2 linked regions of the Homo sapiens genome follow. The protein of the gene in region 2 interacts with the protein of the main gene of each other region in a pairwise test. Each region holds a gene or a part of one and is shown on either strand. Other genes may lie near its edges.

What was found.
Region 1: the proteins of MRAP2 (region 2) and TMEM80 interact in binary tests that used the Homo sapiens proteins (3 or more experiments, as listed by UniProt).

What each region holds. Positions count from the first base shown.
Region 1 is NC_000011.10:696,197-705,395, forward strand, and holds the end of TMEM80 (transmembrane protein 80), read left to right. Parts: intron 1-2,672; coding exon 2,673-2,692; intron 2,693-3,945; coding exon 3,946-4,039; intron 4,040-4,418; coding exon 4,419-4,511; intron 4,512-6,748; coding exon 6,749-6,954; 3' UTR 6,955-7,478; coding exon of another isoform or gene 7,479-7,539; 3' UTR 7,540-7,603; coding exon of another isoform or gene 7,604-7,790; 3' UTR 7,791-7,933; downstream 7,934-9,199.
Region 2 is NC_000006.12:84,024,585-84,042,226, reverse strand, and holds the start of MRAP2 (melanocortin-2 receptor accessory protein 2), read right to left. Parts: upstream 8,456-17,642; 5' UTR 8,344-8,455; intron 8,109-8,343; exon of another isoform or gene 7,995-8,108; intron 1-7,994. UniProt on the Homo sapiens protein: Modulator of melanocortin receptor 4 (MC4R), a receptor involved in energy homeostasis. Plays a central role in the control of energy homeostasis and body weight regulation by increasing ligand-sensitivity of MC4R and MC4R-mediated generation of cAMP.

The sequences.
Region 1 (9,199 bases), on a different chromosome or scaffold from region 2:
CAAAGAAAATCGCGGGCGCCGGTGCCTCAGCCGTCCTGCCTGAGAGACTCGCCTCCGAGAGGAGGAAGGGACAGACCAAAGCAGTAAATCGGCCATCCTGCAGAGGAGCCGCCTTCTGCTGTCTGTGGGTACAGCCAGAACTCCCATACGCGGGCGCTGAAGTGCCAAACCTTCGTGCGTGTTCTCTAGTAATTAGGTGCATTGTTTTGAAGGAATAAAGAATGGCTACTCCATAGGCAGGACAGCCTCTAGTAACCAGGTTTGTTTTGTGTATTTTCATTTGGTTAAAAATTAAGTTTAGGTTGGGCGCAGTGGCTCAGGCCTGTAAGCCTGACAGTTTGGGAAGCCGAGGCTGCAGGATCATTTGAGGCCAGCCTGGGCAACATAGCAAGACCCCCTCTATAAAAAAAAAACTGTAAACATCAGCCAGGCGGTGGCGCACCCCTGTGGGCCAAGCTATTCTGGAGGCTGAGGCTGGCGGATCACTTGAGCCCAGGAGGTCGAGGTTGCAGTGAGCCGTGATGGCGCCACTGCACTCCAGCCTGGGCGACAGAGCGAGACCCCCTTCTACAAAAAAAAAATTAAAAATTACCCCGGGGAAGGCCAGGCGCAGTAGCTCACGCCTGTAATCCCAGCACTTTGGGAGGCCAAAGCGGGCGGATCACCTGAGGTCGAGGGTTCAAGACCAGCCTGACCAACATGGAGAAACCCCGTCTCTACTAAAAATACAAAATTAGCCTGGCGTGATGGTGCATGCCTGTAATCCCAGCTACTTGAGAGTCTGAGGCAGGAGAATTGCTCGAACCCGGTGGTGGTGGTGGGGGGGGTGGGGTGCGGAGGTTGCAGTTGGCCAAGATCGCACCATTGCACTGCAGCCTGGGCAACAAGAGCGAAATTCTGTCTCAAAAAAAAAAAAAATTACCTCAGGGAGCCTGTGGTCCCAGCTACGTGGGAGGCTGAGGCTGGCGGATCACTGGAGCCCAGGAGGTTGAGACTGCAGTGAGCTGTGATCAGGCCACTGCACTCCAGCCTGGGCAACAGAGCAAAACCCTGTCTCTAAAAAAACTAAGTGTATACCAAAACAAGATTTCTTAACACATCTTGTCCATTACATCAGGGAAAACACTTGTTCTCTTTCACTTCCATGTTTAACTTCTGCCTGACACAGCTATTCGTAGCCACATTGTGATTATAGTAAGTCACTGACAAAAAATGTTGTCCTGAAAGCCAAGGCTACGTTCGGTCAGAATGAGCTCCTGCAGGTCTGGAATTGTTAGAACAGCGTATCTGGTTATAGCCGCCCTTCATATTAATTATTAAAATGTTACATCACTTAAGGCTTTTATACAGTTTTTCCCCCAAGCCCCATAACTTCAATCTATAACAGTGAGCAACTAGCAGACACATTGGAAGTGTTTAAGAAGCCAGCCTTTAAGAAAAGGAACAGAAGGGACAAAAACCCCAATTAATGCGAAATCATCACAGATAATGACAGGTATTTAGGTGGCCTGGTTTAGCTAAGGCCTGGAAAAGAACAGATCGGGTTTAAAGAGTGGCCTGCCGGGAACGCGATGCGGCGTGGTCTGCCGTGCACTTGGCTTCCTGCTTCCATCCTGTGGTGCCTCTTCCAGGAGCCCAGTTCTGAGTCTCTGATGCCGATGTCCTGTATTTACTGGCTTAAAACTCTTGCCTGTGTGAGATTCCACAAACTCTGGCACAGAAGGCCCCAGATCTGCCCAAGAAGCTGTGGGATCAGCCACAAAATCTCACCAACGCCAGGTTTCTGTCCTGCCCTCCCTGGCGCTGAAGGGGAAATAGAACAGAGGCTGTGTTCAGGTTGCTGTCCTGCCTGCCGCCCAGCGGTGCAGCTTGAGCCTCCTTTTATGAGAGGTTTCCACCCAATTCTAGATGTGTATTGAGGTATCTACACATGGAGGGACGTGCACATATCACACGTGCAACTGGCCTGAGCCCTTTTCAGACAATTAGTCCGCTCCAGGTCAGCGTGGATCCAGGGTGAGTCAGAGGCGTCTTCAGATGCAAAACCTCAGAATCAAAAAGGAGGAAAGAGACTCCACTCACTCCTCGGGCTTCCTGTCATCTCTCAGGTGGGGGTGGGAGAAGGCCCAAGAGGTTGCATGATAAAAAGACTGGACAGCTGCATTGCTGGTTTGGAAAATCCTTATTTTTGGAGGGATATTTGGGGATAAAATTTCAGAGGAAAGCAAATGTCTCATCAATCATGAAAAAAGATTTGTTACAACCTAAGTCAGAAAAGGTTTTCATCTAGTCATATATGTGTGGCAAATACGGAGAAGCCACAGACGGTGAGCCACAGACAATGAGAGCAGCTGTTGGGGTGGGCTCCAGGGTGCTGCTTTCCCTGAGGGCCAGCTGGGTCTGGCCCAGGTTCACTTCCCACCCCGGTGCCCCCGGTACTCGCTGTCTCCAGCCTCAGGTTCTGAAAGGCAGAGACTCCTAGCCTCATTGAAGGATGGTTAGAGAGGCACGGGAGCTATCTAGTGGCAGGCCCACGGTATATGTTTGCTGCTTTCTACAAATACGAGATCAAAGGAAAATAAAGCAGGGGTGGTTCCTGTCAGTGTGGAGCGAGACCCGGGAAAGCATCCTGGTGGCTGTCAGGCCTTGCTCACGGCCCCTTTCTCTTTCAGGGAGAGGATCCTCCACAGTGGTATCCTGCTGCGTGCCCCTCCAGGACAGCACCCAGAGGCCCGAATTGCTGCTGCACAGAGAGCACTCGGCCTCACCCCACGTTTTCCCTAAGTTCTGTCTAGTAATTCCACTTTGGAGAGGGGGGTGTTCCTTGACAGATTTAGAGAGTTGATGTAACTTCCTCGGATCAGTTCTGCTGGCTCCATCCCCTACCTGCTCAGCCCTGCACAAAGTGGCTAAGCACGCCACACTGCCGGCTCCCAAGGCGATGGCCACCTGCCTCTGTCTCGGCCGCTAGTGGCAGGAAGATGGAAATCCCTCACTTTGTCCCTAGATTCATTTTATTTTATTTTTGTTTGTTTATGTTTTTTTAAGGACAGAGCCTTCCTCTCACCCAGGCTGGAGTGTGGCAATCACAGCTCACTGCAGCCTCAGCCTCCTGAAGCTCTGGCATCAGGCGGGAGCCACTGTGCCTGGCCCCATAGACTCATGTTAGCATAAACAAATAGGAAATGTACACAGCTCAGGAAATGGCTACTAGATACTTAAGTCCCCCAAACAGAAATATATTTCCTCTGAAGAAACTGAAAAAAGTGGCCGGGCGCAGTGGCTCATGCCTGTAATCCCAACACTCTGGGAGGCTGAGGTGGACAGATCACTTGACACCAGGAGTTTCAGACCAGCCTGGCCAACATGGTGAAACCCTGTCCCTACTAAAAATACAAAAAATTAGCTGGGCATGGTTTTGCACGCCTGTAATCCCAGCTACTCAGGAGGCTGAGGCAGAAGAATCACTTGAACCCAGGAGGCGGAGGTTGCAGTGAGCCAAGATTGTGCCACTGCACAGTGTCCAGTCTGGGCAACAGAGCAAGACTCTATCTCAAAAAAAAAAAGAAAATGACAAAGTTATTTTTTCTCTCTTAACTCATAACTGGGGCCAAAGGCAGGGTGACATCACTGGGGATGCCAGTGTGTGGAGGCTGTCCCCTGACCAGTCCTGTCCACAGTCAGGAGGGCAGGGGCTGCAGTGCACAGACCGCATTGTTGTGGCATGGAGGGGGGTCCCACAAAGGCCTTGTCAGCTCATGGGACCACATTGGCAGCCAGCATAGTGACAGAAGCCTCAGATAGGCAGTGAGCCATTGCCAAGACTCCATGGTCCCTTGGTGTCTGTGGCCACCAAACAGATGACAGAACCAGCCCCTCTTGTTCAGCCACCTGGGAGGCTGCTCCCAAGCCTGTTGAGCTTGAGGATCCTTAACCACTCACCAGCTCTCTTCAGTTCCCCTTCAAATGCTGTTTTATCTCAGCGGAACGTACTACGCCCTGTATTTCCTCGCCACGCTCCTGATGATCACGTATAAAAGTAAGTCAGGGACGGGCACAGTGGCTCACGCCTGTAATCCCAACATTTTGGGAGGCTGAGGTGGGCGGATCACTTGAGGTCAGGAGTTTGAGACCAGCCAGGCCAACATGGGGAAACCCCATCTCTACTAAAAACACAAAAAGTAGCCGGGCGTGGTGGTGGGCGCCTGTAGTCCCAGCTACTCGGGAGACTGAGGTGGGAGGATTGCTTGAACCCGGGAGGTGGAGGTTCCAGTGAGCCAAGATTGCGCCACTGAACTCCATCCTGGGTGACAGAGCAAGACCCTGTCTCAAAAAAAAAAAAAAGGAAAAGGCAAGCTGAGGTGGCTGCTGCTGCTGTGCCAGGTTACTTATGTTCCGTCCGCGCCTCTGCTCTTCAGGTCAGGTGTTCAGCTATCCTCACCGCTACCTGGTCCTCGATCTTGCTCTGCTGTTTCTGATGGGGATTCTAGAAGCAGTTCGGTTATACCTGGGTGAGTGGACTGTTAACACCGTGAAGAACCTGTCCTAAGAGTTGCTATCTGTTTCCACAGCCTTTCAAGAGTAATTATTTTATAGTGTGGTTCTCAGAGACATTTTTTATCCAAACTGCTTACCCAGTTGCTTTGCAGGCTCACCTTACAGTGTCATTAAGTATTAATCAAGAAGTTTTGTCCCAGAGACAAATAACACTGGGGGCATCGTTGGGAGAGACTCTGTGTTTGGAAGCATGTCTTGTAGAAGCCACTGGGTAATGGCACTGAGATCAGAAAAGCCCAGCCCACCACCACATCTGGAGCTCCGGAATATTCACCAGCACCCCTTTCCTTCCCCTTGCCCTTAGCTGTCTGAGGAGAGAGCCCTGGAGAGTTCTGCCAGGTCCCAAAAGGCAGCAGAGTCTGGAGGGGTGGGAGCCCCCAGCCTCCCCACTCCAGCTCTAGGGATCCCCAAGTCTGCAACCCCTTCCAGTGACCTACTTTTTTTGAGACGAGGTCTCACTCTGTTGCCCAGGCTGGAGTGCAGTGGTGCAGTCACAGCTCACTGCAGCCTTGACCTCCTGGGCTTGAGCGATCCTCCTGCCTCAGCCCTCCCCTCCTCCCAAGTAGCTGGGATTACAGGCACCTGCCACCACGCCCAGCTAATTTTGTTTTGTTTTGTTTTGTTTTTTTTTGGTAGAGACGAGACAAGGTTTCTTTTTTTTTTTTTTTTTTTTTTGAGACAGAGTCTCGCTCTGTCGCCCAGGCTGGAGTGCAGTGGCGTGAACTTGGCTCACTGCAAGCTCCGCCTCCCGGGTTCACGCCAGTCTCCTGTCTCAGCCTCCCGAGTAACTGGGACTACAGGTGCCCGCCACCACGCCCGGCTCATTTTTGTATTTTTAGTAGAGATGGGGTTTCACCATGTTAGCCAGGATGGTTTCCATCTCCTGACCTCCTGATCCGCCCACCTCGGCCTCCCAAAGTGCTGGGATTACAGGCGTGAGCCACCGCGCCCGGCCGGAGACAGGGTTTCGCTATGTTACCCTGGTTGGTCTTGAACTCTTGGGCTCAAGCAATCTGCCCACCTTGGCCTCCCAAAGTGCCTGGCCTCACTCCCCTTTTTTTAACCACACAATTTGTTCAAGGGTATGTTCTTGTACAAGATTCAAGGGGTGCAGAAGTAAAACATGGAAATTCGCCCTCCCCAGAGCTCACCTCTGTGGCCAGCGGGGTGCAGACTTCCAGCCCTCTGCGTGCTCATGGTCGTAACATGTGCACCTAAACACACGTGTTTGTGAAACATTGTCCTGCCGTGGGGAACGCAATGGGCACTTCCAGGGCGCTGTGCCCCTGCCAGGCTGGAATCTTGGGCCCCTCTTGTTCACATACAGATACACCCCTGATGCCTGATGTCCAGTGAGGAACCAAGGCTGCGGGGAAGGGTGGCCCCCACCCTTCCTCTTGTTATCAGGCCTCAGACACACTAGGAGGATGGAGGCGAGTTCTCTCAGCTGCCCATCCCACTGAGGGGTGCCCGGCCGTCAGTGTCTTGTCTGCACTTACGTCCCAGAACCTCTAGAGCTTGCCCCCCAGGGCGGGCACTGCTGGGAGGGTGCGAGCACCGCTGCGGCACAGAGGCCCGGTTCTTGGCTGATCTTCTGGGGCCTGGGCCTGCCCTGAGGTGGTGGGGACAGGGTGTGGCCTGGCCCTGCTGGGGGCTGCTAGGCCAACGGGACCCTCCCCAAGCGCGCCGCACACTGCAGGGTCTCCAGGCACCTGGGCTCAGCTAGTGACTGACCCATTTGTTTGCTAAATACGCAGTTTTGTTTTTAATACATACTCGTGAAATTTTCCAGAACTGGCCTTGGACCAGAGAAAAATACTTTGGGAATTTTTCAAAAAAATCCCTTCAGTTCCACTTGGAATTAGGAAAACGTGGCAGATGCACTTGAATCATTTTAGAAACCAAATTCACCCCCGCCCACACAGCCGACCCAGAAGACCCAGAGACAGATCAAACCATGCTGTTGCAGGGGCACCTCCCCCAGGAGGGGCTCACGCCTGTGTTGCCCATGCTCTCTGGCTCTCCTGAGTTCTGGGTGGCCATGGAGGCTGTTTCCCTGGAATTCCCCAGGCCCCGGAGGAACGTAGGGCAAGGAGCTGCTCTGGTCCCAGCAGCCCTCCAGGCACCTGTGGGCGGTGGGCTCCAGGGAGCGCCTCGCACCACCTTCCCTCCCCTTTGCTCTGTTCTCCAGGCACCAGGGGCAACCTGACAGAGGCTGAGAGGCCGCTGGCCGCCAGCCTGGCCCTCACGGCTGGCACCGCCCTCCTCTCTGCCCACTTCCTGCTTTGGCAGGCCCTAGTGTTGTGGGCGGACTGGGCCCTCAGCGCCACGCTCCTGGCCCTTCACGGCCTGGAGGCCGTCCTGCAGGTGGTTGCCATCGCGGCCTTCACCAGGTAGCTACGGACACCCGGGATACCCCACACTGGGGCCCTCCTCCTGGGCCTGACCAGTCCCCCAGCTGTCACCTCCCCATTCCTGGACAGGAAGGGCACTTTTCCTAGTGACTGGCCATAGATGGTTTTGGATGGTTCCATCTGTTCTGGCAGGAGTGGGAGCAGGAGCCAGGGCAGAACAAACTGCTGGAGGCCCTGGTGTTGGGAACAGCTGCGGGGAGGGTAGGGACCAGACAGAACTGCCTTCAAGATGAGTCCCAGGAGCGCACACTCAGCCCTGTCAGTGGGGTCTGGCTTTAGCAGCCAGGCCTCCACAGACCCCCATGGGCCCCCAGGGCCGAGAGGGAGGACAGAGCCCTTCAGAACAGAGGCCTCATCTCACTGCATCCCCCATCACCCCCTAGTTCCCCAATGGTCCTAATTTGTGTTCTGAGATCCCAGTTTACTCCGTGGCCAGGCCCCACCTGTGTTTCCAAGTCGGGCTGGAGACGCAGGATGGGGTAGGCCTTGTGCTCTGAGCAACCCCAGCTCTGCCTCACAGGCAGGCAGGCCCGGTGCAAGAGTGGACTCTGGGTTCCTAAAGCAATAAATGCAAACAAGCCAACAGCTCTGCTGCCTAGCAATTTCCATCTTAGCCACACTTCTCCCTTCAGGGGCTTCGGAGGAGAGGTCAGGGCTAAGGCCGGGGATGAGACTGCAGGAGAGAGAGCAGCGGAGGGCCACATTCGGAGCCTCCGTCCACTCCAGTTTTATCAGCTTTTGCCTTTTGCACGGAGTGCTAAACAAATTCTAGCTCTGTGTTTTTTTCCCATTCCCAGATTTACTATCAGTTCTCCTTAAAAAGTATCTAAGCTGTTACAGTAGCTTTCCCTTCACTTGATTCTATTGTGTGTTTTCTATGTTTGGAATAATTACACCCAAATATCTAGATATTTTCTCTTCACCGCATTTTGTAAATAAAGAGATGTGTATGCCTCCCTGAATTCTCCTAATTATGGCCACCTCCCCCACCCCATCTCCAGTTCTCCTGCCCTGCAAGAGAGCACACCCCACTTGCCAGCTGGTCAGTTCCTGGCTGGCCTCGCCCTCGGGCCCTGGCTGCCGGGCGCCTTCCGCTCGGTGGACTCCTGAGGGCAGGAGGCTGCGGGACTGTCCTGGGCCTCCACTGGGGCTCCCTCGGCTGGGGTGGCTGTGGCTGTGGCACCTGGACAGTCTTTCCTGCCTGTCTTCGTGGAAGCGGTGGGAGCACCCAGTTGTCCTGGGCCGACTTCCTTTGACCTGTCTGTGGCCCCCAGTGGCCACGGTGAGCTGCAGGACAGCCCTGAGGACCCACTTCACACACCAGCGCCTGAGCGCCTCGGGCCACCTCCCTCACCAGCGCCTGCACTCGCAGAAGACCAGCTGGGCACACCTGCCATCTGGAGGACCCAGCCCACAAACCATGCAGACCAGGGAAGGACCCCCTCCCTGAAGCTGGAGACCTGTTGCCTTCATGGTTAATGGATCCTGATACCTCCAGTCTCAGCGAGCACACAAAGGCAGTGGTCACCTGTTCCACAGGGAACGCCATGGCTCCAGGTGACCCGGAGTGGATGGGGCCCGAGAGGCCAGCCTGGACTGTCTCCTGAGGGCAGGCTCCGCACTCAAAATCGTGTTGACAGGCACCCGTTTAGGAGTGGAGAGGGACCCCACCCCCCAGCTGTCCTCTCCAGCGCCTGTTTCCCACTTGGCCACTCCCAGCTCTGCCTCCAGGAAGGGTGAGGGCACGGGTGCACCGAGGGGTTGGCGTGTGTGACCCTGAGCTCTGGGTCAGGGCAAGCTCATGCATGGAGCAGGATCACGGCAGGTTCCTGGAGATCAAACGGCAAAGGCTGTAAACCAGGAAGCCAGGTCTTGCCTGGGCTCAGGGGCAGGCACTGGGCCCGAAGGAGGAGGGCCACTTCCTGCCAGCCCTCCACCGAGCTCACCTATGGCGCCTCCCCAGGAAGTGCTCCGGCCAGCCCAGGGTAAACACGCTAGCCCTGCCCCTCTGGGACCATAGCCCGGGGACCCAGACTCTTGGCCACGCTCATTCCCACCCCTACCCAGGACCGGCAGCCGGAGCCTTGGGTCCCTGCATGGGCCTGGGGCGCCCTGTGCCCCTTCACCTCGTCCTCGTCCAGTTGACTGCTGTGGCAGCCGGTGCTACCCGCTGTGTCCACTGCACCCTGGCCCTGTTCTGAGCGGTCACAGCAGCTGGGGAGAAGGGC
Region 2 (17,642 bases):
CATGGTGGAAAGGGAAGCAAACACATCCTTCTTCACATGGCGGCAGCAAGAAGTGTGAGCAAAAGGGGGAAAGCCCCTTATAAAACCATCAGCTCTCATGAGAACTCACTCACTATCAGGAGAACAGCATGGGGATAACTGCCCCCATGATTCAATTACCTCCCACCAGGTCCCTCCCACAACACATGGGGATTATGAGCACTACAGTTCAAGATGAGACGGGTGGGGACACAAAACCTAACCATATCATTACACTCTTGGCCCCTCCCAAATCTCATATCCTCACATTTCAAAACACAATCATGCCTTCTCAACAGTTCCCCAAAGTCTTAACTCATTCCAGCATTAACTCAAAAGTCCAAGTCCAAAGTCTCACCTGAGACAAGGCAACTCCTGCCTATCAGTCTGTAAAATAAAAAACAAGTTAGTTACTTCCTAGATACAATGGGGGTACAGGCATTGGGTAAATACAACTGTTCCAAATGGGAGAAATTGGCCAAAACAAAGGGGCTACAGGCCCCATGCAAGTCTGAAATCCAATAAAGCAGTAATTAAATCTTAAAGCTCTGAAATAATCTCCTTTGGCTCTATATCTCACATTCAGGTCATGCTTATGCAAGAGGTGGGCTCCCATAGCCTTGGGCAGCTTCACCCCTGTGGCTTTGTAGGGTACAGCCCCCTCCTGGCGCCTTCACAGCTGGCATTGAGTGTCTGTGGCTTTTCCAGGTGCACGGGGCAAGCTATCAGTGGATCCACCATTCTGGCGACTGGAGGACAGTGGCCCTCTTCTCAGAACTCCACTAGGCAGTGCCCCACTGAAGACTGTGTGTGAGGGCTCTGACTCCACATTCCCTTTCTGCGTTGCCCTAACAGAGGTTCTCCATGAGGGCTCTGTCCCTGCAGCACACTTCTGGCTGGACATCCAGGCATTTCTATATATCCTCTGTAATCTAGGTGGAGGTTCCCAAACCTCAATTCTTGACCTCTGTTTACCCATAGGCTCAACACCAAATGGAAGCTGCCAAGGCTTGGGGCTTAAACCCTTTGAAACTACAGCCTGAGCTATACCTTGGCCCCTTTGTATGCCTTGGCCCCTTTTAGCCATGGCTGCAATGACTAGGATGCAGGGCACCAAGTCTCTAGACTGCACGCAGCAGGGGGGGCCTGAACCCAGCCCACAAAACCATTTTTTCTTCCTAGGCCTCCAGGCCATGGGTGGGAGGAGCTGCTACAAAGGTCTCCGACATGCCCTGGAGACATTTTCCCCTTTGTCTTGGCAATCAACATTTAGCTCCTTGTTACTTATGCAAATTTCTGCAGCTGGCTTGAATTTCTCCCAGAAAATGAGTTTTTCTTTTCTACCACATTGTCAGGTTGCAAATTTTCCAAAACTTTTATGCTCTGTCACCTCTTGAACACTTTGCTGCTTAGGAATTTCTTCTACCAGACACCCTAAATCATCTCTCTGATGATCCACAGATCTCTAGGGCAGGGTAAAATGTCACCAGTCTCTTTACTAAACCATAGCAAGAGTCACCTTTGCTCCAGTTACCAACAAATTCCTCATCTCTATCTGAGACCACCTCAGCCTGGACTTCATTGTCCATATCACTATCAGTATTTGGTCAAAGCCATTCAGCAAGTCTCTAGGAAGTTCCAAACTTTCCCACATTTTCCTGTCTTCTTCTGAGCCCTCTACATCTCCAGGAAATTCCAAACTTGCCCACATTTTCCTGTCTTCTTCTGAGCCTTCCAAACTGTTCCAACCTCTGCCCATTACCCAGTTCCAAAGTCGCTTCCACATTTTCTGGTATCTTTAATAGTAACTCCCCACTACCTCAGTACCAATTTATGGTGTTAGTCCATTCTCATGCTGCCAATAAAGACATACCTGAGACTGGGTAATTTACAAAGGAAAGAGGTTTAATTGACTCACAGCTCCGCAGGGCTAGGGAGGCCTCAGGAAACTTACAATCATGGCAGAAGGGGAAGCAAACACATCCTTCTTTACATAGCGGCAGCAAGGAGAAGTCAGAGTGAAGAGAGGGAAAGCCTCTTATGAAACCATCAGTCTCATGAAAACTCATGAAGGCAACCAACCCCCTGATTCAATTACCTCCCAGTGGGTCCCTCCCACGACACATGGGGATTATGGGAATTCAGTTCAAGATGAGATTTAGGCGGGGACACAGCCAAATCATATCACACTGGTAGGAATATGGTGTAGGTTTTATATTAGATAGTTGATCTTAAATTTGTTTCTTTCTCTCTCGTTTCTTTTTTTCCCCACAGAAGATAGAATTATATTTCCTGAAATAATCTATACAAAGGTTTGTAGAAAGACAGAAAACGTTTACAACCACATTCTCTCACTCAGCTCCTAATTTTTCTCTCTTGTTAAACCAGGCAACTTCAAAACTAATCCTTAAGAAGCCCCTCCCTCAGCCTGCTCTGCCTTCCAGTGATTGTTATTTTTGCTATTACCAAGAACATGCAAGAGGAAAACAAATGCACCTTGCAGGAGAATTATTTGAAGCTTACAAACTATTTTCACTTGAAGGGTTATGAAATTTTACTAACGTTCTCTAGTGAGGCAAAAATTACACAGGTCTTGATAACAGAAACACGAGCAACAATTAAACTCAGATTTTAACATATATAATTTTAGCATCTCATAAAGCTAGTCTCAACTTCTGCTTTTTTACTTCATATCTCAACAATACTATAAGGGACTGCAGAATCATGATTGCAAGGAAAATGCACAGTTTCCACCTCTCCAATAGGACTAAGCACTTCTCATACTCCAGTCAAGCAAAAAAATCACTTTGTACCCTGACATGAAGCAAAAATAACATGATCATCCTGCCTGAAAGTTGGTCTCCAAAATAAAACTTCAAACACATCTCATTCCCTTAAAGAAATAATTTTTTCCCTTGATTGTTTGCTATGCTGATGTCTGAAAACAAGTCACGACTTTTAGGAATAGATAATTGTGTAAGAAAGTTGTTTTTAGTCATGAACAACAGACTAATGTAAATGGAGAACTTTGGTAATTTGGTGGAATATTTTCTTTCAAGTATTTATTGTGATTTTATTTGATGAGCCAGTCTTATAAAGCCTGACTCCCTTGCACTCTGGGGAAGTAAACATTTTCTTTCCTTTTCTAACTGCTTCTGCCTCTAAGTCTTCCTTTGTCAAAAGTAAATGTAACAATAAACACAGATTGCTACTCTACTTAATTTTAACCCAAGCATATGTTACCTACTCTGAGCTAGCACAACTTGTGGGGCCTGCTCAAATGTCAACTGTATTTTGGTTTTCTATTGCGCCTCAAAATACACTCAAGGGATTCATCTTCCCTGCCCTCAAACAAATACTTGAGTAGATCCCATGATGTTTCTGCTCATGCAACAACTTCAAAGTCCCAAAAGAGGCCAGTCACAGTGGCTCACAATTGTAATCCTAGCACTTTGGGATGTGGAGGCAGGAGGATCACTTGAGCCCAGGAATGCAAGACCAGCCTGGGCAACATAGCAAAACCACGTCTCTACAAAAAAAGTTTTTTTAATTAGCTGGGCATGGTGTTCTGTGCCTGTAGTCCCAGCTACTTGAGAGACTGAGATGGGAGGATCACTTAAGCCCAAGAGGTTGAGGCTGCAGTGAGCTGTGATCATGCCACTGCACTCCAGCCTGGGCAACAGACAGAGTGAGACTTTGTCTCAAATGAATAAATAAATAAATAAGAAATATAAAAACCTAAAAGAATTAAAATGTCTAATCTTTGGAAACAAAAGAAACTCTGACCCATTATAACACAAATCTGCCCTATTTCTGCAATGTCCTGCTGCATGCTGGTCTCCTGCTGGGGTTGGGGGAAGGTAAACTTCTTTTCTATTTCTCCACCATCCACTCAACTGCTAGCTAGTTTCACATCACTCCAAGACCAAAGCAGGAGGAAAGGACTGAATTAACTATCTTCATACCTCACATGGGTGTGTTAGTAATACTCACCTTCCTTCAGCTGGCTGCTCATTCCTACTTCTGCTGCCAGGGGCCCTCGCCCTTAGGCCAGCCCTTCCTCCCATGTGGCCCCACCTGGCTCCCAGATCATCTTCAGACATCCTTTGCCCAACAAACTCTGGGAAGGTGAGTGATCCAGCCACCTAGGCCCCTGTGTGAGCCCCAAATGCAAGAAGCACATGGACAGCTCAACTCACCCTCAAATGGCCCCACTGAGAGGTGACAACATGCTAGCAGCCCTCGCTCACTCTCAGCACCTCCTCAGCAGTGTCTGCTCCGGCCATGCTTGAGGAGTCCTTCAGCACACCGCTGCACTGTGGGAGCCCCTCTCTGGGCTGGCCGAGGCTGGAGCTGGCTCCCTCTGCTTGCGGGGAGGTGTGGAGGGAGAGAGAGGGGCAGGAACCCGGGCTGGCCAGCGTGAGTTCTAGGTGGGCGCAGACTCAGTGGGCCCCACCAGCCCTGGGCAGTGAGGGGCTTAGCACCCAGGCCAGCAGCTGCAGAGGGGGCGCCAGGTCCCCCAGCACTGCCAGCCTGCCTGCGCCGCACTCAAATTCTCACCGGGCCTCAGCCGCCTCCCTGTGGGGCAGAGCTCAGGACCTGCAGCCCGCCATGCCAGAGCCCAGCCCCCCACCCCGTGGTGGGCTCCCGCACTGCCCGAGCCTCCCCAACGGGCGCCGCCCCCTGCTCCATGGCGCCTGGTCCCATCAACCGCCCAAGGGCTGAGGAGTGCAGGCTTGTGGCATGGGACTGGTGGGCAGCTCCGCCCATGGCCCTGGCGTGGGATCCACTAGGCAAAGCCAGCTGGGCTCCTGAATCAGGTGGGGACTTGGAGAACTTTTATGTCTAGTTGGAGGATTGTATATGCACCAATCAGCACTCTGTGTCTAGCTCGGGGTTCGTGGATGCACCAATCAGCACTCTGTATCTAGCTAATCTGGTGGGGACTTGGAGAACTTTTATGTCTAGCTAAAGGATTGTAAACACACCAGTCAGCACTCTGTGTCTAGCTCAAGGTTTGTAATCACACCAATCAACACTCTGTGTCTAGCTCAAGGTTTGTAAACGCAACAATCAGTGCTCTGTGTCTAGCTAATCTAGTGGGGACTTAGAGAACTTTTATGTCTAGCTGGAGGATTGTAAATACACCAATCAGCACTCTTTGTCTAGCTCGGGGTTCTTGGATGCACCAATCAGCCCTCTGTGTCTAGCTCAAGGTTTGTAAATGCACCAATCAGCACCCTGTGTCTAGCTCAAAGTTTGTAAATGCACCAATCAGTGCTCTGTGTCTAGTTAATCTAGTGGGGACTTGGAGAACTTTTTTGTCTAGCTGGAGGATTGTAAATACACCAATCAGCACTCTGTGTCTAGCTCAGGGATTGTAAATGCACTAATCAGCACCCTGTCAAAACGGACCAATCAGCTCTCTGTGAAACAGACCAATCAGTTCTCTGTAAAGTAGACCAATCAGCAGGATGTGGGTGGGGTCAGATAAAGGAATAAAAGCAGGCTACTGGAGCCAGCAGTGGTAAGGCGCTCAGGTCCCCTTCCACACTGTGGAAGCTTTGGTCTTTCCCTCTTTGCAATAAATCTTGCTGCTGCTCACTCTTTGGGTCTGCACTGCCTTTATGAGCTGTAACACTCACCGTGAAGGTCTGCAGCTTCACTCCTGAAGCCAGCGAGACCACAAACCCACCAGAAGGAAGAAACTCCAAACACGTCCGAACATCAGAAGGAGCAAACTCAGAACACACCATCTTTAAGAACTGTTAACACTCACCGCAAGGGTCCGTGGCTTCATTCTTGAAGTCAGTGAGACCAAGAACCCACCAATTTCAGATACACCATCACTAGCTTTGGGATGAAGGAAGTAAATCTATTCAACAAGGCCTCCTTGCTCAACCCTCATATTATTTTTCATTTTGTTTATTAAAACATTTCTTCATATTCCTTTGCATGATGAACCCTCATACTCTTGAAGTAACCAGTGGGTTCAAGAGTTATGGAGAGGTTCTCATATATCTACCTTGATATTTCATTTAGGAAAAAAAGCCAAAATGAGAAAAATTTAAAAAAAAAAAAAGACTAGACAGAAAATGACACAATGAGGCATTATCTGGTAATCTTCCAAATATCATAGCTTGGTATAATAATAGTTCCTTAAATATATTACACAAACATCATAAGAATATTGTTCTTCCAATATTTTTTGTACTCCAAGTAATGAAAACATTTCCCTTGAAAGCTAAAAAGGACAGATGTGATATTCTCTTTATACAATTTGAACTAATTTAATATGTTTGATAAAAGTTATCTATGAACTGTGACTATCAAAAAAGGTCACAGATAAATAATTCAGAGATGAATTCTGATTGGCAAAATACCTCAGCATCTGGGGGCCAACAGAAATGGGGAGGAGGAAGCGAACAGCTTTCCAGAATATGTTGATGACATAATCTGCAAGGTAAAAGAAGATGACCCCCACTGTGACCAGAATGGGGCTAGCTCAGAAGGCTGAAAGGGGGCAGCTAGCGATGGGTATGAACACTCACGCAGAGGCAGCAGGATCAGCAACACAGAACAGGACACATGCATCACCAGCGCGCGCTTCACAAAACAGTACTTTCCCTTGCTCCTGCAATGCACTCTGATATCTTATCTTTCTTTCTCTTGGCTTTCATGTTTTAAAAACTGCTATTTGCAACTCACTAAACTGATCATTAGCCTAATGAGTCACAGCCCACATTTGAAGACAATGGATACAGCATACCCTGATCTATATCCCAGTAGATTGCTAGAAAAGGGAAGGGAGTTGGTTTGGCGTAAGTATTTGTAAATGCTTCCCTAGGTAGTTTTGAGCTATCTTAAAGAATTTGTTCTAGAATGTTGCCAGGATTCAATGTTTCCCTCTTTTAAAAAGTCTCCTGGGTCCATTCTCATCTCTCATACCTGCACAAAGATGACTGTAACCGCTTTCACTACTCTAGGACGTCTGCCATTTGGGTTTTGAACAATCCAGTCCAGTTTCGGGCTTCGAGACCCTCTTTAAAGGGTTTAGGCTGGCCTCACTTTGAAAAGAAAGATACAGACTGGAAGCAACTCTTCCTTTTCCTATCACCTGTTAATATTATCTATTCTTCCATAAACACTGGATGATCTTCCTCATAAGAACGAAACTCCTTGTGGGTACCCCAGCTCACAGTGGCCTCTGGCTTTCCTGACCTTATCCTTGCAGGCCCTCGTCACTCTCCTGCACCTGTTCTTGTCTGTGTACCCCATGCAATGTACCTAAAGGAAACTAGACTCACAGTCCTAGCTTCCAGACCCCTACTCCCCACTATTACTTAACTGGGGCAGTCACCTTGGAAAACGTATTTAATATCGCAATCTAATTTTCTCTACCTGCAAACTGAAAATACTACTGTTTACTTTTGGGGTTTTCGTAAGAATTAATTTATGCATAAGAGTTCCCTTCTCTCGTCTCCCTGGACACATTCCCTCAAGCTTCCTTTGCCTTCAAAACACCAGAGTGTTTCACTGTTGTCAAACTAAATGCAGAGTAGTGGCTGAGATTCTGTGCCATCTAACATGCTGTGGAAACCACAACGCCTCCAAACAGGTTTCTGCAGAGACTACTCTTTGCCTTCCTCAATTAATTACACAGAAAGGATGGGAAAGGCACGGGGCACGGGGCGCGGGGCGGGCGGGGGGAGCGGGGGCGGGTTGCGGGGTGGGGCGGCGGGGAAAGTGTAAAACCCCTATTTCCCTCTAATCAGTAACACGACCTGCGAGCAGGCTCCCCAGTCCAAACAAAATGAATGAGCAACTGTCAAGCCAGGCATCATCTGAGAACCCTGCCCAGTGCATGGAGGCGCGCCCGGGGCCAGGAGCCAGCACATTTCCCCAGCCCAGGGGGGCTCTCTCAGTTGCAGGGCACCAAGGCGGCAGGAGGGCCGCAGCAAGGAAAGTTTTCTCACCAGCGGGAAAGGGTGTGCCTCGGCCGCTGGGGCCCAGCGGAGGGGAGGAAGCCCACCCAAGCCCCGAGCGCCGCCGCTTCCAGGCTTTTCGGACGCCCAGCGGCGTCCACACGCACATCAGCGGGCTGCCGGGAAGGTTTTAAACTTGGTGCTCTCCACGGGGTCCACACTCTTCCCGTGGGCGTCCTCACACCCCAATTCTCCTCCTCCCACCCCATTCTCTAGCCCCTCTAAACTAAAGACTGCCCCCAAACCCAAGCAAGCCCTGCCTTGACCAAAGCTGCACGCGCCCCGCACCCAGCGCCCGGGCTTTGCTCCGCCCTGGGCGCCCTGTCCCGCCCGTGGTTACCGGCTGGCTAGCCCCGGCCCGCGGGCTCGGCCCTGGTTCCGGCTCCTGGCTCCTCCGAGGTGCGCGAGCGCCGCCGCCGCCGCCGCCTCCCACCGCCCAGGGCCGGGCGAGTAGCTCCTAGATCCGAGGTGCGGCGGAGACGCGCGCTCCCGACCCGCAGCGGAGGCGGCGCGGGGCGCCGGAGCAGGGCTGCAGCGCGGGAGCCGCCTCCCCAGCGCGAGAGCCGCCTCCCCAGCGCGAGGCCGCCTTGGCCAAGAGGAGGTGAGCTTTGCAGATCCCTTTCCTGCTCACTTTGCCCCTCCGAGTCCGGGTCAGAGCCTGAGTCAGAGAATTCTTTGCCATCCCGGGCTCTGCAGTGGGTCCCTCGGGTCAACTTTGGGTAACAGGAGGAGCTCATTAGCTGAGCAAGAGGGAGTGGGGTATCATGAATCAAGGCTTATGAAAAATCGGCAGCATTGAGTTCAAGTTCAGTAAGGCCAGAGCCCCCCCATAATGTGCTGCTTAAATTACTACCTCGATTTTAGTTTCTCTTCCTGCCCACTGGTCCAGGTGTCAAAGGGCAGTCAGACGTTCAAACGGGGTCCCAAAGGGCTAGCACTGGGCCGGGAGTAGTTTCAGCATAGCAGGGCTGGCTCATCTCTTCCTCCCTTGAGTCCTTATTGCATGCCAGGCATTGATCTGGGAATACAGGTGCTTGGTGCTTGCATTCTACTAAAGAGACAGGCATAAACATAACAAATAACTAAAATACATAGTATGTGAGATAGTGATGAAGTGCGGTGGACAAAAAAGAAGGGAGGAAATGGGATAATGTTTGGAGGTAGGGGGTGCATTTTTAAATGGGATGGTCAAAGATGGCTTCACAGTGGAGTAAAGATCTAAAGGAGATGAGACAGAAAGAAGTCACGCTGGTATCTGGAGAGAAAGCACTTGCTGTGTGGCAGGCACTGAGATGTTCTTTACTGCACTAGTCATTTCTTTTACTACTCTCCATATGCCATATTAGACAGGTATTGCCACCATTTCCATTTTACTGATGAGAAACTGTAACTTAGGAAGGTTAAAGGAACTGCCCAAGGTCATATGCTAGTCAATAGAGGAGCTTGCCTTCAAGGTCAGGAAGCCTGGTGCCCCAGAACCATAGTTTAACCACCATTATACAGCAGCAGGGGAAATGCAGCACCCATGCAGGCTGGTGGCAGTGTGATGAACTCAAGCTGGTGGTGCCAAAAGAGGATTCCTGGAAATGACATCTCATCACTGATTTTTTTTTAAAAGCTCAGTTTCATTACCACTTGTAAAATGAAATATTTTGAACACCATTTTTCTTCTTCTTCTTTTTTTTAATTTTAAGTTCTGGGATACATGTGCAGAATGTACAGATTTGTTACATAGGTATACATGTGCCAGCGTGGTTTGCTGCATTTATCAACTTGTCATCTAGGTTTTAAGCCCCGCTTGCATTAGGTATTTGTCCTAATGCTCTTCCTCTCCTTGCCGCCCACCCCCGACAGGCCCCGGTGTATGATGTTCCCCTCCCTGTGTCCATGTGTTCTCACTGTTCAACTCCCACTTATGAGTGAGAACATGCTCATTTGGTTTTCTGTTCCTGTGTTAGTTTGCTGAGAATGGTGGTTTCCAGCTTCATCCATGTCCCTGCAAAGGACACAAACTCATCCTTTTTTATGGCTGCATAGTATTCTATGGTGTATGTGTGCCACATTTTCTTTATCCATTCTATCATTGATGGGCATTTGGAGTGAACAGGCAACCTACAGAATGGGAGAAAATTTTTGCAATCTATCCATCTGACAAAGGTCTAATATCCAGAATGTACAAGCAACTTAAACAAATTTACAAGAAGAAAACAACCCCATCAAAAAGTGGGCAAAGGATATGAACAGATACTTCTCAAAAGAAGACATTTATGCAGCCAACAAACATATGGAAAAAAGCTCATCATCACTGGTCATTAGAGAAAACCATCTTTATAGTGTGTGTATGTATCTTCTGCCTCATCCACAAGCAGTTTGATTCTAAATAACATAATTTGACAATCTGTGATAAGATTTATTAATCATTCCCCAAGTGTCCACACCAGTTCCAGTTGCTCATTCCTATTCACAGGGATGTGATTCCTCACCCCTGCAGTAGAGCCTCTGCCAAGTGTCTTCAGGGCATTGTGAAAAAGAGTGACAAAACTGCTGCTTCTGAGGGGCTACGGTGTGAACAGGCCAATTTCTGCCTTAGCTGTCGGCATCAGGTGGCCTTGTTCTGGGCAGAGCATCAATGGCTCCAGACAGAAAACCAGGGCACATTGTACTTTGTGAAAAAGGCAGGTCACTAACCCTTGGTTTCAGAAGCTGAAACTGCAGCATCTGGTGAAACAATGACATCAATAGGATGGCCAAGCCCACATTTCTCTCCTAGATATCTCCACCTCCTCATGGTTGCATTCATTCCTGTCTTCCTTCCTCCACTGTCAGCAAAAATCTTTTGACCTTTCCTTTGTAGGAAAGGTCTTTTCAAACACCACTTGTCCCAAAAAGCCTTCCTCATTGTCTCAGCTACAAACGAACTCTTAATCTAAAATCTGATACCTCTCTTATGGCACCTGACATTTCCTACTTTATTTTAAAATTTAGCCTATACTGTATACCTTAACTCCTCCATAGGCCAAATATTAATTTATATTTAATTTCTCCACAGGTCCTAGCATAATGTCTTCTACCCAGTAGACATTCAATGAGTATATTTTTACTGTTGTTCTTAATAAATTAATCTGCAAGAATACAGCTTCATTGTCTTTTAATTTTGTCTTTTCATTCCAAGATAACTCACAGAAATTTAGTGACAGGACTAAGTTATATGTAGCTATAGCTGTTGTTCATCAATATAAGTTGACAATGGTTTGTCTTGAGGTAAATTCCATTTGCCTTATTTCAAGATTAGAAAACAGAGGCTTTAGAGTAATCTCCCTTAGGTCACAATACTAGTCTTCAAGAGAGCCAGGATTTAAACCCAGCACCGTTTGGCTCCAAAATGAGCTCACCACAAGCTCATACTTCTCTTTCAGTCGTTCATTCAGGAATGCATTCATTTGATCTTTCAACAGATATTTGCAAACATTGACTGTGCTCAGCTCTGTCCTAGACACCAGGAAAATAGCAATGATTAAAACACAGTCCTTGTCCTCAAAATGCTCACAATCCTGTAGAAAGGACAAAGGTAAGGAAATAATAAAAACTTAGTATTATAAACCTTTTAGACTCATGGATGTCCTAGAGGAGCACTTGGTTTAACTTAGGTTATAGGAAGTAGGAGGTGACAGCATGGATTCTCTAAGAAGACAGAATGTAATTTTAATTTTGAAGTTTTTTACAATGCTAATGAAGGAAAGCATATGGTAGACAGAGGAAAGAGCGCTTGCAAAAACACGCGTGGAAGGATACAATGCATTCAGAGAATGGCTTTGCTGATTCAAGAGGGCTGCAGCATGGTGAAAGCAGAGTTGACATGAGGCTGGAAAGGTAAGCAGGGCCAAATCACAAGAGGTGCACAGAGTAGCTTTTATGAAGTTCATCACCCGCTTAATATATATAAAAATCATGGCTGTCTATGTATGTCAACTTTCCAGGGTAGAGAGAGGTTGTCTAACTTTAGTCAAATTCTCAAAAAGGCTGAATGACCCAGGGCTAGGAAGTGGGGGAAGTCACTTTCCTTTCCCACAGCCTTCCATAGGTCCATGGACTTCAGGAAATCCCAAGGAATTGCAACATCAACCAGGATATGCTGGATACCTGGATTGGGGTGGGTGCAAGGCTTGCCCCTGCCAAATCACCTCCAAACATGCAGTGGCACTGACATCCCGGGGCTAGGATGGCTTGACCCTGGTCCTCCCAGCACCTGTGCCCATGTGCCTTCTAAGTGTGGAAGGAAGGGGTTGCTGGGTGGCCAGAAGGCCAAGAGGCAGGGAGGCACCTGAGAATGTGTCCTGGGAAGGTGGCAGAAAGCAGGGCCACAGAGAGCCACGACTCTAAGCCCTAAGCGCGTGCTTCATTGCCTCATCTGACTTCAATTGCTGCGATGGGCTGAATGGTGTCCCCCAAAATTCATATGTCCTAAGCCTTGGTACCTCAGAATGTGACTGTATTTGGCGATCGGGCCTTGAAAAAGGTGATTAGGTTCAATGAGATCATATGGGTGGGCCCTACCCCAATCTGACTGTTGTTATAAGAAGAGTACACACAGAGAGACACCATGGGGCATATGGATACAGAAGGACTCCGATATGAAGAGGCAGCATGGGGGTGGCTATCTGCAAGGCAGGGAGAGAGGCCTGGAACAGAGCCTTTCCTGACAGCCCTCAGAGGAAGCCTACCCTGCTGGCACTTTGCTTTTGGCCTTCATTTCCAGAATTGCAAGAAAATACATTTCTATTGGTTAAGCCACCCAGTCTGTGGTACATGGTTATGGTGGCCTGAGCAGACTGATAGACTTACAGAATACCAATTCAAATTTCAAAGAAGTTTAAGAATTCCAAGATGGCGACCACAGAGCATTAAATCCCCAGGGAGGATTTAATGCTTAACCTTCTAAGCATGGTGTCCTGTGCCACTGCACCAGTCATACGCCCATGAAGCTAGGCCTTGGGAATTGGGAAATGGAGATCTGAAGACAACTTGGGGTTCATCAGTGAGGTGGTGTGATTAAAGCTGGCAGATGGGTGAGACTGCTTCTTGGAAACATAAAGTGAGAAGAGAAGAGGGCTGATGTCAGAAAGAGCAACTAGGGACATAGAGGTGGACAAGAAAAGGTGAAACCCAGTGGAGAAATGGGTAATAATGTCTAAGGCCCAAGGACATGTAATTAGGAACCAAACCCCATGGGCCCTAGCATGGAGGTCATGTGGTAGGCACTGGGACCAGGTTGCTGCTGGTTAAAGAATAGGGAGTGCAATTACAGGCTAGTCTTCTAAGCAGGCTTGGGAGGAAAGAGGAGACTGGGGCTGCTGAGGGCCCTTGTGCAGATTTATGGGAGACAGGAGGTCAGGAGGCCTAATATCCAGCCCACACCCAGTCACCAAAGCTAAATCAGCCTGCTGGAAGGGCCAGTGGAAGGCCTTCTAACCAAGACTCCAAATAGCCTAGGCCTGAATAACAAAGCTGTAGCTGGAGCTTTTCCTGTGGATATATATATATATATATTTTTTATCTGAATCCTCTCCCTAGATCCATGAGAGAAGCAACTGTTCTGCCTCCATGCAGCCCCCAGAACAGTGGCGCATAGTAGGCACAGGAAACAAATGTTGAATTAACCAATGGGAGACAGAGTCAAGGGAAAGGTTGTGCTTGTTTTGTTTTGTCTTTATTCATTTGTTTCAGATGAGAGACATAAACATGTTTCTAGATTGAGAACAAGGATCCCAAAGGAAGGGATAAGTTTAAGATAAGAGTTGAGAAAGGAAATAATTGATGAATAAGATAATAAAGAGTAAGAGAATAAATCAAGAGAACTTCTGGAGGGGAAAAAAAAAACCTGAATTATCCTTCAGGAAATTTAATCATTTAGTCATTCATTGATGAGTATCTCGCATTGTCCTGGGCCCTTCTGGGGTTGGGGAACTGAAGGGTTGGAGGGTCAGGGTGGATACAAAAGAAAACCTAAAATATATTCCCTTTCATTTGTTCAAGGTGACACCATCTAGTTAAGAAGTATTTTATGGAAAAAAATACACAGCAATGAAACACAGCAAGAATGTTCCCAGACGTCTGAGTAATAAAGAAAGATTTGAAAACAGAGTGAACTAAGAAAATGCCCGGAGGCATTACAGCAGAGGTGGAGAGCAGATAGGGAAAAGGAAGTAGAGAGAAAATAAGGGAACATGAGCTCTGGCATGGTTTCTTGGCAATGGGCTGGCTGGCAGCTGGCAGCATCAGGAAAACAGGGGCTCAGTGTTGACTCAAGACCTGGGAAGCTCCATTTATTTTCCAGTTGATTAGGACCAATGCCAGCAGTCAGGCTCAGCAGGAAGCAGTAAAATCAAGACTTGTCTCAGAGAAGGACACATCCCTGATAGTTAATGTGTCTGGGCATGGAAAACCTGGCTTTTTTATAATGAGTCCAACAACAAGGCAGGACCAACTGAAGAAAGTGATGAGAAAGAAAAATTGACATTGTTTTCAGAAGTTAAAGTACATACTATGACACAGTTACCTCTCTAACTTGTTTCCTTTAGAGACGAGGATAATCTATCATCCAGTCAAATCAAAGGCAAAACCTCACACACAAAGGAACCCAGGAATTCTACTAGCTAAAGCCAACCCAGGGAGCAGCAAGTACAACTCATATCAAGGATACAGTTTCCTCCTTTTCCTCAATTAAGTTTCAGAAAGTAAATAGGAGGAGTGAGTGTTCAGAAGCCCCAAGGCTTGCAAGATGTGAGGAGTGCATGCTGCAAATGGTCACGTTCTCATCGTGAATTGCTCCCATCTCATTAATGGCAACAATTCTCTGCCCATTTCTTTCTTAGGTGATTTGAGGGTTTATTGAGTATTATAAACTTTCTTACTCTTTGGCATAAATTGGATTTCATTTGCTTTGTCTTGGTTTTATACTGTTGCTCTTTTCAAATCAGCACAATTATTCCTGAATATATGTGCACTGCTTTCACTTGCCAATCATTCCTTTTTATTCCAGGGAACACATGCCAGGGCACCGCACACCTCTGCAGGCTCATACATACAGGACCTCAGCCCCTACTTCCTGGTAATATTCATTTTTTCTTTCCCTTCCAATGTTTAATCATTTACTTGAAGCTTCCCGCTTGCTGCTAATCCTATTGTTTTGTTCCTCCAGTAGAACTGCACAGACTTCCACCCACATAACGTGGCACTAGGCAGACAAAACATCTGATATATTTTAGTTCATGCTTGGCATTCAATCAAGAAGACGAAGCTGTGAGCCATGCTGAAATGCCAACTAAAATTCATTTTGCACTACCAGAAAGAGAGAGAGATGGCACACCGAGGAGAAACTGTAGCCTCATGGCGATCATGTGTAGCCCTAGGCTCTAACACTAGCAAATTTCTTTCCCTCAAAATTGAATTGGTGCATTTTGAAGTGAAATCCTGATGGCTTCTTGTTTACTATCACACAATAATGAGGAAGCTTCAGTTTATTGGCACGGAGCTCAGCCACTCTCAGACAGCAAATGGAAAAGAGAGACTAACTTGTCCTGGTGCTTTGCTCCTTGTTATTCCTTTAATTGTGTCACAGCCAATACAACGCATGATGGAATTATTCCGAAATAGAGAAACACGTTGAGCCTAGACATTGACTGTTACAGCGGTGTGGGTGGAGTCCACACATACTCATGCCCCCTCTCTTTCCCACATGCCTGCACACCTGTCTATTCAGTGAGGGGAAGATGAGGTCTTGCAGCCCTGGGTGGCTTCATCTGCCCATGAGGGTCACTTTTCTCTTCTTGGTTCTTTTACCTCAAAGATATTCTGTGATCACTATGTGCTGAAAGCATTCAGCATTCTTCTGCCTCTGCTCAAATTATCACTAGTACTGTTCTTAACATTTCTGGTCCCACCAAAATTCATGCCCATTTTGTAGAAACTGACCCAATGTGAGGATGATGAATAATAAAAAGGAGGTGTGTGTGTGCGTGCGTGTGTGGGTGTGTGCATGTGCGTGTGTGTGTGTATCTGGGTATGTGTGTCTGTGTATAAAATCTCAGAAAGAAATGTTGAAATAAATATGAAACATTTAAATTTTTTATTATTTTAAAGGTAATATCAGCACTTTTTGGAAAACAAAATAGAAGAAAAAGTCATCTATAACTTCACTACTGTAAAACCACCAATGATAGCATTTTGTACTTTTATTTTTAAATTTTTTTATTTTTAATTTTTATGGATACATAATAGTTGTAAATATTTATGGGGTACATGTGATATTTGGTACCAGTGTGTCAATATGTAATGATCAAACAGGGTAATTGGGATATCCATCACCTAAAGCATTTAACATTTCTTTGTGTTAGGAATATTCTAATTCTACTTTTTAGTTATTTTGAAATATACAATAAGCTATTGTAAACTATAGTTGCCCTATTGGGTTACTGAGCACTAGATCTTATTTTTTTTTTTTTAATCTAACTGTATTTTTGTGCCCATTAACCAACTCCTCTTTATCCTCTCTCCCTACTACCCTTCCCAGTGTCTGGTAATCATCATTCTGCTTTCTATCTCCATGAGTTCAATTTTTTTTTTAGCTCCTATATATGAGTGAGAGAATGAGATATTTGTCTTTCTATATCAGGCTTATTTTACTTAACATATTGCATTTACTTTAAGACTGTTGTAAAACATGGCTGTTTACATAGCAACCATATGGTGTATTAGTCCATTCTTAAACTGCTGTAAAGACATACCTGAGACTGGGTAATGTGTAAAGAAAAGAGGTTTAATCAGCTCATGGTTCTGTGGTCTGTACAGGCTTCTGTTTCTGGGGAAGCCTCAGGAAACTTACAATCATGGTAGAAGGTGAAAAGGAAGTAAGCACATCTTCATATGGCCAGCAGGAGAGAGAGAGAGAAGGGGTGGGGTGCTACATACTTTCAAACAACCAGATCTTGTGAGAACTCTATCGCAAGAAAGTCAAGGGGGAAATTCACCCCTATGATTCAATCACCTCCCACCTCCCACTGGTAATTACAATTCAACATGAAATTTGGGTGGGGACACAGAGCCAAACCATATCATATGGTACCTTTAAATGAGTATATTGATTTTCCCACATAATTCCATTATATTGTAGGCATTTTCTATATTATTATATAACTTTATAAGCATCGACTCCTTTTTGAGAGGGTGTTCTTGCTACATTACCTAAGTTGACCTTAAATTCTTGGGTTCAAGTGATCCTCCCACCTCAGCCTCCTGAGTAGCCAGTACTACAGGCAGGCACCACTGCACCTGAATCCAAACATCAACTGTTAATGGCTGAGTAGACACCATAATTTATTTAACTATCTCATTATTAATAGACACTTAGGTGGACTCCAGATTTTTTTCTACTATAACTATTGCTGCAATGATATTTATATTTATCATTATATTATATAAAGGCAGATATGATAAAATACACAGCTATATTACAGATATTACAAAATACAGTTATTCTCTCTGGACCTTAATATTTATTTCACATTTGCAGAAATTTTTCAGATGTCTACCAATAGGTGGGTCCAGCAATATCTAGCTTTGCAAACAAGGGCCTCCTGTGGG